Homo sapiens: one gene and its partner. The protein of the gene in region 1 purifies or fractionates together with the protein of each later gene. This does not show direct contact. Each region holds a gene or a part of one and is shown in the gene's direction. Other genes may lie near its edges.

Region 1 (5,014 bases):
TTAGCTGAATTGTATTTTGAGAGGGTATTTTCTTATAGAAATTACATTTTGAAATACAGCATTGGTTTTTTCCCCCATAGTATTATCTTTTTCAATACTTTTGATGGCCTTTAAAAGGCATTTGTAAAACTAAAAATTCTGCCTTTTTGTGGAAAGAGGGTTTTTTTATTTTGTTACTGTCATTCCTTGTTTCTCTTCTATAAGAATTTGCCTTTATCTTTAAAAAACATGCTTACTGTTTCAGAGAGTGTGACGCAGGAAAGGAGGCCTCCCAAACTTGCCTTTATGTCAAGAGGTGTTGGGGACAAAGGTTCATCCAGTCATAATAAACCAAAGGCTACAGGTATGGATTAATAGCATATAACCTTTAGTAATTTGCATAATGCCTAACTTGCCATAGCATTAAAAAAGATTATAAGCTATTACTTCTGAACATGTATGTAGACTTTTTTTCTTTCAAACATTTTTAGTAGTGAAACTAAAGTTTGTATATAAATACTGTTGCTTAAGCCAAGTGTTCCCAGCCTTTTTTACCTCAGGAAGAGTTCCCCATAGGGTCTTGTGTGTTTTGCTGGTCTATAATCAAATGGTTTTTGGAACTCCTTACTTGGAATATTTGTATGTATAGTTTAGGATTGCAACTGTGTAAAATAATCCTATATGGATAATGTTATATAGGATAAAGTATACTAGAGGTTAATTAAATGGATTTTGCTAACTAGATTTGGTACAAATTAAATCCCAAACTGCTAAGCAAAAATTTCTTCTCTTTCCCAGAAGCTTCCTCACAATATGTGTGGAGCTTACAGCTCTTTTTTTTGTTAGCTTCCACATACTTCATAGATTTATAGAATAGTAGTTATACAAGCCAAAGAGCTCATTAAAAAGGCTCTGAGAATTTTTGTTAACTCAGATGCGAGTTAGGAAAAGAATATTTTTTCCTCAATTATTACAATTTTGGCTCATTTAAAAGGAAATTGTACTTTAAGAATTATTTTATGTGACATTGGGGCCTGGGAGACTTAGGATTAATTGCAGGATATATAGGTAACAGTCTTTTTTATGTTAACCTATAGATCTATATAGGATAGCTCAAACTTGCTACTCTCACTTAAATAGAAACAGACTAAAGATTTTCTTAAGCTATGGCATGTTAATTGTATTGTAGTAGATCTTAAAGTTATAAAATGTACAGCTACCTGCTTTAATTTGAAAAGGGAAATCAGCTTTTTTGTGGGTTCTGGAGAGCCCACTGCCCTCCACTGTGTGTGGTATGTCCTTGAATTAATACTGAGGCAGGGTAATGTCATGAAATGGCTGTGGCATAGCTACACTCGCCCTCTCACGTATAATAAATCCAATCTGTAAGAAATAATAGTGCTTGATTTTTTCAAAGACACAAGGAATTTGATGACCAAAAATTCCAAAATGTTTAAAACTTAACTATTTTTAAATGTAATTTGTGTATTGATTTATATATAGAATTTGAGGATTACCTTCTTTTAAAATAATAGGTTAAATTTGTGAACCAATGGGTCTATGAAATGAAGCTGGAGAATGGTGATTTTGACATTTAGAAATAAGCTGTGGTACATGGAACAATTTCTTAAAGCAGTTCATTTTTTTTAAAAATGAGTGGGCTTTTCTTTTAACTTACTCCTGTTTCCCTCCTATCTTGACTTTTGGGCTGAAAAATATTTTTAATATTGTCAAAATGGTTACCAAATTTTTAAAAGCTGAAGACAGTTAAAAAACATATTGTGTTTATATACATTTATTGGTTATGTAAACAGTTATTAACATCATATTCATAATAATTTCTCTTACTAAAAAAAAACTTTGATGCTATATTGACTTTATTTTTAAATGAAACTTTTCTTGTTCCTATAGGATCTACCTCAGACCCTGGAAATAGAAACAGATCTGAATTATTTTATACCTTAAATGGGTCTTCTGTTGACTCACAACCACAATCCAAATCAAAAAATACATGGTACATTGATGAAGGTAATCAGTAATTTTAGTGTTCTTTATAATGATCCTTTCTTTCTAACTCATCAGAGAAAAATGGTTTTTTATATCAATATTTGTAGTTTTTGGAAACAGAATAAGTAGACCGCTCTTTGTAATATTGCTGAACTAAAATATTGTACACAGTTTGAACCGTACTGCTGTTAAGATTATTAAAATGTTTAAGAAATGTATTAGTAATTTGTTCTTTTCCTTTAACTGCTGATCTATTTAGGGTGGAAGATTTCTGTCTGGTTCCTTCCTGACCTCTTTAAAGCACTCCCTTTTAAAAAATTTTATCTTCCCTTGGTCCTGGGACATCATTTTCACCTAGTTTATTCTCTTCTTTGTTCATTTGTTCAACAAATATTTATTGAGTGCTTATGATTGCCAGGCATTCTTTTAGGCATCAAGATGAAAATGGTGAGAAAAAATAGACATGGTTCATGCCCTTTGTGAGTTTGCAGTTGTTAAGTTGTTGAGATAGAAATTAGTCAAACAACCACAGACACAGTAGAGTTGCCTTGGTGGTGTGTGCAGTGAAGGTGCATGATGCTGTGAGAATACACCAAAGATGATTTTTCTCAGGGTCTTAGGGGTGTTTCTTTGGGGCAGTGACACATGCTTAGGTTTACCAGAGGAGTGACAGATGACAAAGTGAAAGGGGCTAGAACTTCCTCGGGAGAAGAAATAGCATAGGGAAAGTCCTCCTGGAAGAATGGAAGCTAGTGTTTGCCAGGGACTAGAACACAGACAGAGGCATGACATTCATGAGATGAGAATGGAAAGGCAAACAGGCCTGACTCTGTGGTCTCCCAGCCTTTAGAGTTTTGCCTGCCACATTTGTTTTTAAGGCACCTGGAGCTGATTTTCATGTAAAGTATGAGTAGGATTCCTGTTTAATTTTTTTTTAAAAATATGGATAACCAATTATCTCAACAGCATTTAGTAAGAAGTTCATTCTTTTGTCATTGATCTGCAATACCTGCCTGTCAGCTGTATTAGTCATTTTAAGAAAATAGCTTTTGGCTGTGGCTCTCTTTATCATGTGTTTGGTTTCTCTTAAATTACATTCTGTGTTTGTGTTTATTCTGGCTTTGAACTTCTTATTGTATGTTTGTTTTCTCTCTTCTGTTGTTTCTGTTCTTTAGTTTATTCTTCTCTACTTTTTTGAGGGTTATTCTGTTCTTTTAACTTCCCAAGTTGTATGCTGAGTTCATATTTAGCTTTTGTTTTTTTCTGAAATAAGCAATGAAGTCTATAAAATTCCCTTATAAGTATTAATTTAGCCATGTTTCACAAGGATTCTTTCTTTCTTTGTTACTTTTTCTCTCTTTTTTCTTTATTGTTAAAACGTATTATTTCTTTTTTGATCCATTAGATATATAGAAGCGTTTCTTAAGGTTTTCGGTATCTTTTTGTACTGCCTTCTCAATTAATTGTATTTTGGACAAAGACTATCACGTATACGATACCCGCTGATAATAGATTTTTTTGGTTTGAACAGTTGGGTGCCATTGACTGAGGTGCATAAATATGGAGGTGGAGAGAGGAGCGAGAACACTGTTGGAGATAATAACTTTGTGATGCCTATGAGAGTACTATTAATAGCAGGGAGGTCAGGTGGGCAGTTGGACTAGATCTGTATATAAATTTTTAGAAATGTAAGACAGAGTCAATATCCTTGAATACATTTCTGTAATTAGGAATAATTTTTTAGTTGCAGAAGACCCTGCAAAATCTCTTACAGAGATATCTACAGACTTTGACCGTTCTTCACCACCACTCCAGCCTCCTCCTGTGAACTCACTGACCACCGAGAACAGATTCCACTCTTTACCATTCAGTCTCACCAAGATGCCCAATACCAATGGAAGTATTGGCCACAGTCCACTTTCTCTGTCAGCCCAGTCTGTAATGGAAGAGCTAAACACTGCACCCGTCCAAGAGAGTCCACCCTTGGCCATGCCTCCTGGGAACTCACATGGTCTAGAAGTGGGCTCATTGGCTGAAGTTAAGGAGAACCCTCCTTTCTATGGGGTAATCCGTTGGATCGGTCAGCCACCAGGACTGAATGAAGTGCTCGCTGGACTGGAACTGGTAATTTAACTTGACCCAAAAATTTCAATTTTTTTCTCTGTGAGGTTTTGTGCAGATTTCGCCCTATTATATGCTTTTTGACAAACTGTTATATTTGTCAGAAAAGCTATCACTGCAGAATAATTTTCTCACCATGTTTTCTGACTTCCCTTTGCCGCCCCTGAAGCTTGCGACCCACTTGTCCTAATGTTAGTTGATTTATGTTCAAGGAATGAAAGTTGATTTTTAGGCCAATCGATTTAGGCTCCTTATATTAAACAGAATTTAGTAAATCAAGCAAATTTGCCATCAGCTTTTCTCTTTCTTCTTCAGCCCCTTCCCCTGGTCAGTTCTAATAATTATATCACTGGCTTTAAAGTTAATCACCATTTTTAGAGATCTTTTGAGACCTTTGCTAGAGGGAAAGGTTTTCCCTTTAGAGATCAGGAGAACATATCATTTGATATTTTGTAATCAGGAAAGGAGAAGTTGAGTATGTTTAGGATTTATTTAGAGATGGGGTCTCACTCTGTCACCCAGACTGGAGTGCAGTAGCACGGTCAGGGCTCACTGCAGCCTCGACCTCCTGGGCTCAAGCTATTCTCCTGCCTCAGTCACCTGAGTAGCTGGAATTACAGACATGTACCATCATGCTTGGTAATTTTTTGTATTTTTAGTAGAGACAGGGTTTTGCCATGTTGCCCAGGCTGGTCTCAAACTCCTGGACTCAAGTGATCTGCCCGCCTTGGCCTCCTAAAGTGCTAGGATTATGGGCATGAGCCACCACACCTGGCCAATTTAAATATATTTCTTTTTTTTTTTTTCTTGTTTGTTTCCATGCTAGTGAATACTATCTTATGGGGCATGGTGGGGAGGCAAGAATGAGGGTTAAAATAAATAGCCTTCTCCTTCCCTGCCTGTTTTA
Region 2 (4,224 bases), on another chromosome or scaffold:
TAGCTAGGACTACAGGCGTGCACCACCACACTCAACTAATTTTTATTTTTTTTTTGTAGAGATGGCACCATGTTGCCCAGGTTGGTCTCAAACTCCTGGACTCAACCAATCTGCTTACCTTGGCCCCCCAAAGAGCTGGGATTACAGGCATGAGCCACCCTACTTGGCCAAAATGAATGTTTTGTTTCTAGTTTGAGTCATTTTTAGATCAGTAACACTTTTTGCATTTATATATTGCTAATATTTCAGAGTGTCAAAGTACCTTTACTTGTGGTTGCATAAGATAATTAGAGCTTGATCTTGTTGATAATTATGAATACCTGTAAAATGTTCTCTAAAAGTCCCTGATTTCTCTTATTTTCTCAAATTAAGGATAAGCTTAGAATTCGGTTTTATAGACTATATCTGCAAGGCGATATAAAAAGGATTTGTTGACAAATAGTTCCTTAAAGAATATTCCCAAAGAATAAACTTTGGAAGGCCAAGGTGGGCGGATCACTTGAGCTCAGGAGTTCCAGACCAGCCTGGGCAACACTGGAACCATGTCTACAGAAACAACACAAAAATTAGCCAGGTGTGGTGGTGTGTGCCTGTAGTCCCAGCTACTTGGGAGGTTGAAGTAGGAGGATGGCTTGAGCCCAGGAGGCAGAGGTTTCAGTGGGCCAGAATTACACCACTGCATTTCTCCAGCCTAGGTAACAGACCCAGACCCTGTCTCAAAAAAGAGTATTAAGATTCTGGGATCTATGTAGTATTTTAACTTTGAGGGATTATAACATGCATATTTATATAACCCCTCACTTTTTTTTAAACTTAAAAATAGTCCTACCCTAGCATCTCAACTTAATCATTTTAGGTTTCATTCTATTATGTGGTTTTATTTATTTATTTTTATTTTATTTTATTTTATTTTATTTTATTTTTGGAGACAGGGTTTCACTCAGTCACCCATACTGGACTGCAGTGGCAAGACCTCAGCTTATTGCAGCCTAGACCTCCCGGGCTCAAGCAATCCTCCTGCCTCAACTTCCCTAGTAGCTAGGACCACAGGAGGGTATCACCAAGCCCAGCTAATTTTTTTTTTTTTTTTTTTTTTTTTTTGAGATGGGAGTTTCACTTTTGTTGCCCAGGCTAGAGCTAGAGTGCAATGGTGCAGTCTTGGCTCATTGAAACCTCTGCCTCCCGGGTTCAAGCAATTCTCCTGTCTCAGCCTCCTGAGTAGCTGGGATTACAGGCGCATGCCACCACGCCCGGCTAATTTTTTTTTTTTTGTATTTTTAGTAGAGACGGGGTTTCATCACATTGGTCAGGCTGGTCTCGAACTCCTGACCTCAGATGATCCGCCTGCTTCGGCCTCCCAAAGTGCTGGGATTACAGACGTAAGCCACCGCGCCCGGCCTGAGCCCAGCTAATTTTTAAAATTTTTTGTAGAGACAGGATCTCACTATTGTTGCCAAGTCTGGTCTTGAACGGTCCTTGGGGTCAAGTGATCGTCCCATCTCCACCTCCCAAAGTGCTGGGATTACAGAAGTGAGCCACCTTGCTCAGCCTGTTGTGGTTTTAGAATCTAGAAGGTTGTGTCCACCTCTTTCTGTTTGACACAGTCAACCAACCAAAATAAAGATGAAGAATAATATTTTTGATGGAAACATCAAAGGTATCTAGCTTTTTAAAATAGTACAACAAATATATAACGGGTGCTCATCACTATTGTAAGGCTCTAGGGAGAGAGCAGTGAACAAAGCACAAAGTCCCTACTATCAGTGGAGTTTACAATCTAGTGAAGAGAGAAGCACAGTAAATGACAAAAGAAATTAATATGCCTGATAAAATGTACTTGGAAAATAGTAGAGTAAGGGCATGGAGAGTAACTGAGGTGAATGCTCTTTTAGATAGGATGGTGCAGCAAGGCATCTCTGAAAAAAAGATGACATTTGAAAAGAGTCCTTCCAGGCCGGGCACGGTGGCTCATGCCTGTAATCCCAGCACTTTGGGAGGCTGAGGCGGCAGATCACCTGAGGTCAAGAGTTTGAGATTAGCCTGGCCAACACGGTGAAACCGCATCTTTACTGTATATAAAACTCAGCCGGGCGTGGTGGCACGCACCTGTAGTCCCAGCTACTTGGGAGGTTGAGGCAGGAGAATTGCTTGAACCTGGGAGGCGGGGACTGCGGTGAGCTGAGATCACGCCACTGCACTCCAGCCTGGGTGACAGAGCAAAGACCCCTGTCTCCAAAAAAAACAAGAGTCCTGAATGAGAATGAAGTGGGCAGTGCAAACCTTGTAGCTTTCCGTGTGCAGAGCTCTGCAGGCAGAAGGAATGGTAAGTACAGAACCCTGAAACAAAAGTAAAATCACTGGCATGTTTGAACAGGTAATACAGGATAAATTTTATCTTTTTTCAGAGACAGAGTCTTACTCTGTTGCCCAGATTGGAATGCAATGGCATGATCATAGCTCACTGCAGCCTTAAAATTCTGAGCTTAACCAGTCCTTCTGCCTCAGCCTCCAGAGCAGCTGAGACTACAAGTGCTCGCCACCATGCCTGGCTAATTTTTATTTATTGTAGAGACAGGGTCTCACTATGTTGCCCACGCTGGTCTTGAAATCCTAGCCTCAAGTGATCCTTCCGCCTCGGCCTTCCAAAGCGCTGGGATTACAGGCATGAGCCATTCTGCCAGGCCAGAACAAATCTAAAAATTCACTTTCTTGAAGTACTTTTGAATAAACAAATTTAATTGTGGCAGTTAAGTTGGTCATTTGTTCATCTGACATTCATGCAACTGAGTTCCCACATTATGTTGGGGCTGCTAATGATTGATCTGAAGGGATAGTCTCCAGTCTTGACTGGAAACTCATGTTTTGCTGGGTGACTGACATGTTGTGACTTATCCTTTAGTTCATACAACAAATGCTTACTAAATATGTACTGTGTGCCAGGTAATGCTGAAGGTCCTGAGCATACAGACGAAAGTCCCTGCCCTCAGGAGCTTGCAGTCTAGTGTGTGTATGAGACGACAAAGAAGTTTATTTCAAATGAGGGTAATTGCTAACACAGTAAAACAAGGATGATGTAGATGGTAATCGTAGAAGGCCTTTTTGAAGAGTTGACAGTGGGCTGAGTGCTGAATGGTGTCCATTATCAAATTAGAGGATGAGCATTATTATGGTCAGGGAGAACTCTTGTGGCCAGTTTGTAGAACAGAAGGCTTTTGTGCCTGGAATGTAGCAAGAGCCAGGAGGAGGTAGGAGATGAGGTCAGTAGATACCAGATTGCTTAGACCCTGCTGTGGTAAGGGATTTGGTGGTGGTGGTGGTGGTGGTGGTTGTTTTGGAGATAGGGTCTCACTCCCATTGCCCAGTCTGTAGTGCAGTGGCCTGATCACAACTCACAGCAGTCTCAATTTGCTGGATCTACAGGTGTGTGCCACCACACCTGGCTAATTTTTTGTATATTTAGTAGAGACAGGGTCTTGCTGTGTTAGCCCAGGCTGGTCTGAAGCCGGCTGAAGCAATCCACCTGCCTTGGCCTCCCAAAATGCTGGGCTAACAGGCGGCAGCCACTGCACCTGGCCAGGAGTTTGGGTGTTTAAGACAAGTAATTATGAGGAATCTAAGGAGTTTTAGTTGAGAAATATACAAATGCTAGAGAAACATAATGAAGAAAGTGAAATGCAGATTTATTAAGAAGTGTATTTTTAAAAATCAAGAAAATAAGCCCTGTGTGGTGGCATATGCCTGTAGTCCCAGCTATTCCAGAGGCTGAGGCAGGAGGATTGTTTGAGCTCAGGAGTTAGAATCCAATCTGGACAATACAGTGAGACCCCCTGTCTCTCTTTTTTTTTTTTTTTTTTTTTTTTAAAGACAAAATAGATCTGTAAATCTGCCCCTGCACCCTCCCCACCCAAGTTTCTAACAATCTGCCTTGCATGAATCCCCAAAGGTAGAATAAATTTGCATATGGCAAAGAAAGGCCAATTTCCTTTAACTCAGATACACTGATGTTAATGATTTAACTTGACCACAGCAAACTAACTTTTTTTTTTTTTTTTTTTTTTTTTTTTGAGACTGCGTTTCTCTCTTGTTGCCCAGGCTGGAGTGCAATGGCGCAATCTCGCCTCATTGCAACCTTTGCCTCCCAGGTTCAAGCAATTCTCCTGCCTCAGCCTCCCAAGTAGCTGGGATTACAGGCATGTGCTACCAGGCATGGCTAATTTTTAGTAG

The links. The genes of interacting proteins can lie anywhere in the genome.
Region 2: the proteins of CYLD (region 1) and CSE1L purify together in Homo sapiens (affinity purification with mass spectrometry, with the first as the bait; 2 studies listed by BioGRID). This does not show direct contact.

What each region holds. Positions count from the first base shown.
Region 1 is NC_000016.10:50,775,935-50,780,948, forward strand, and holds part of CYLD (ubiquitin carboxyl-terminal hydrolase CYLD), read left to right. Parts: intron 1-244; coding exon 245-343; intron 344-1,890; coding exon 1,891-2,007; intron 2,008-3,730; coding exon 3,731-4,110; intron 4,111-5,014. UniProt on the Homo sapiens protein: Deubiquitinase that specifically cleaves 'Lys-63'- and linear 'Met-1'-linked polyubiquitin chains and is involved in NF-kappa-B activation and TNF-alpha-induced necroptosis.
Region 2 is NC_000020.11:49,049,312-49,053,535, forward strand, and holds part of CSE1L (exportin-2), read left to right. Parts: intron 1-4,224. UniProt on the Homo sapiens protein: Export receptor for importin-alpha. Mediates importin-alpha re-export from the nucleus to the cytoplasm after import substrates (cargos) have been released into the nucleoplasm.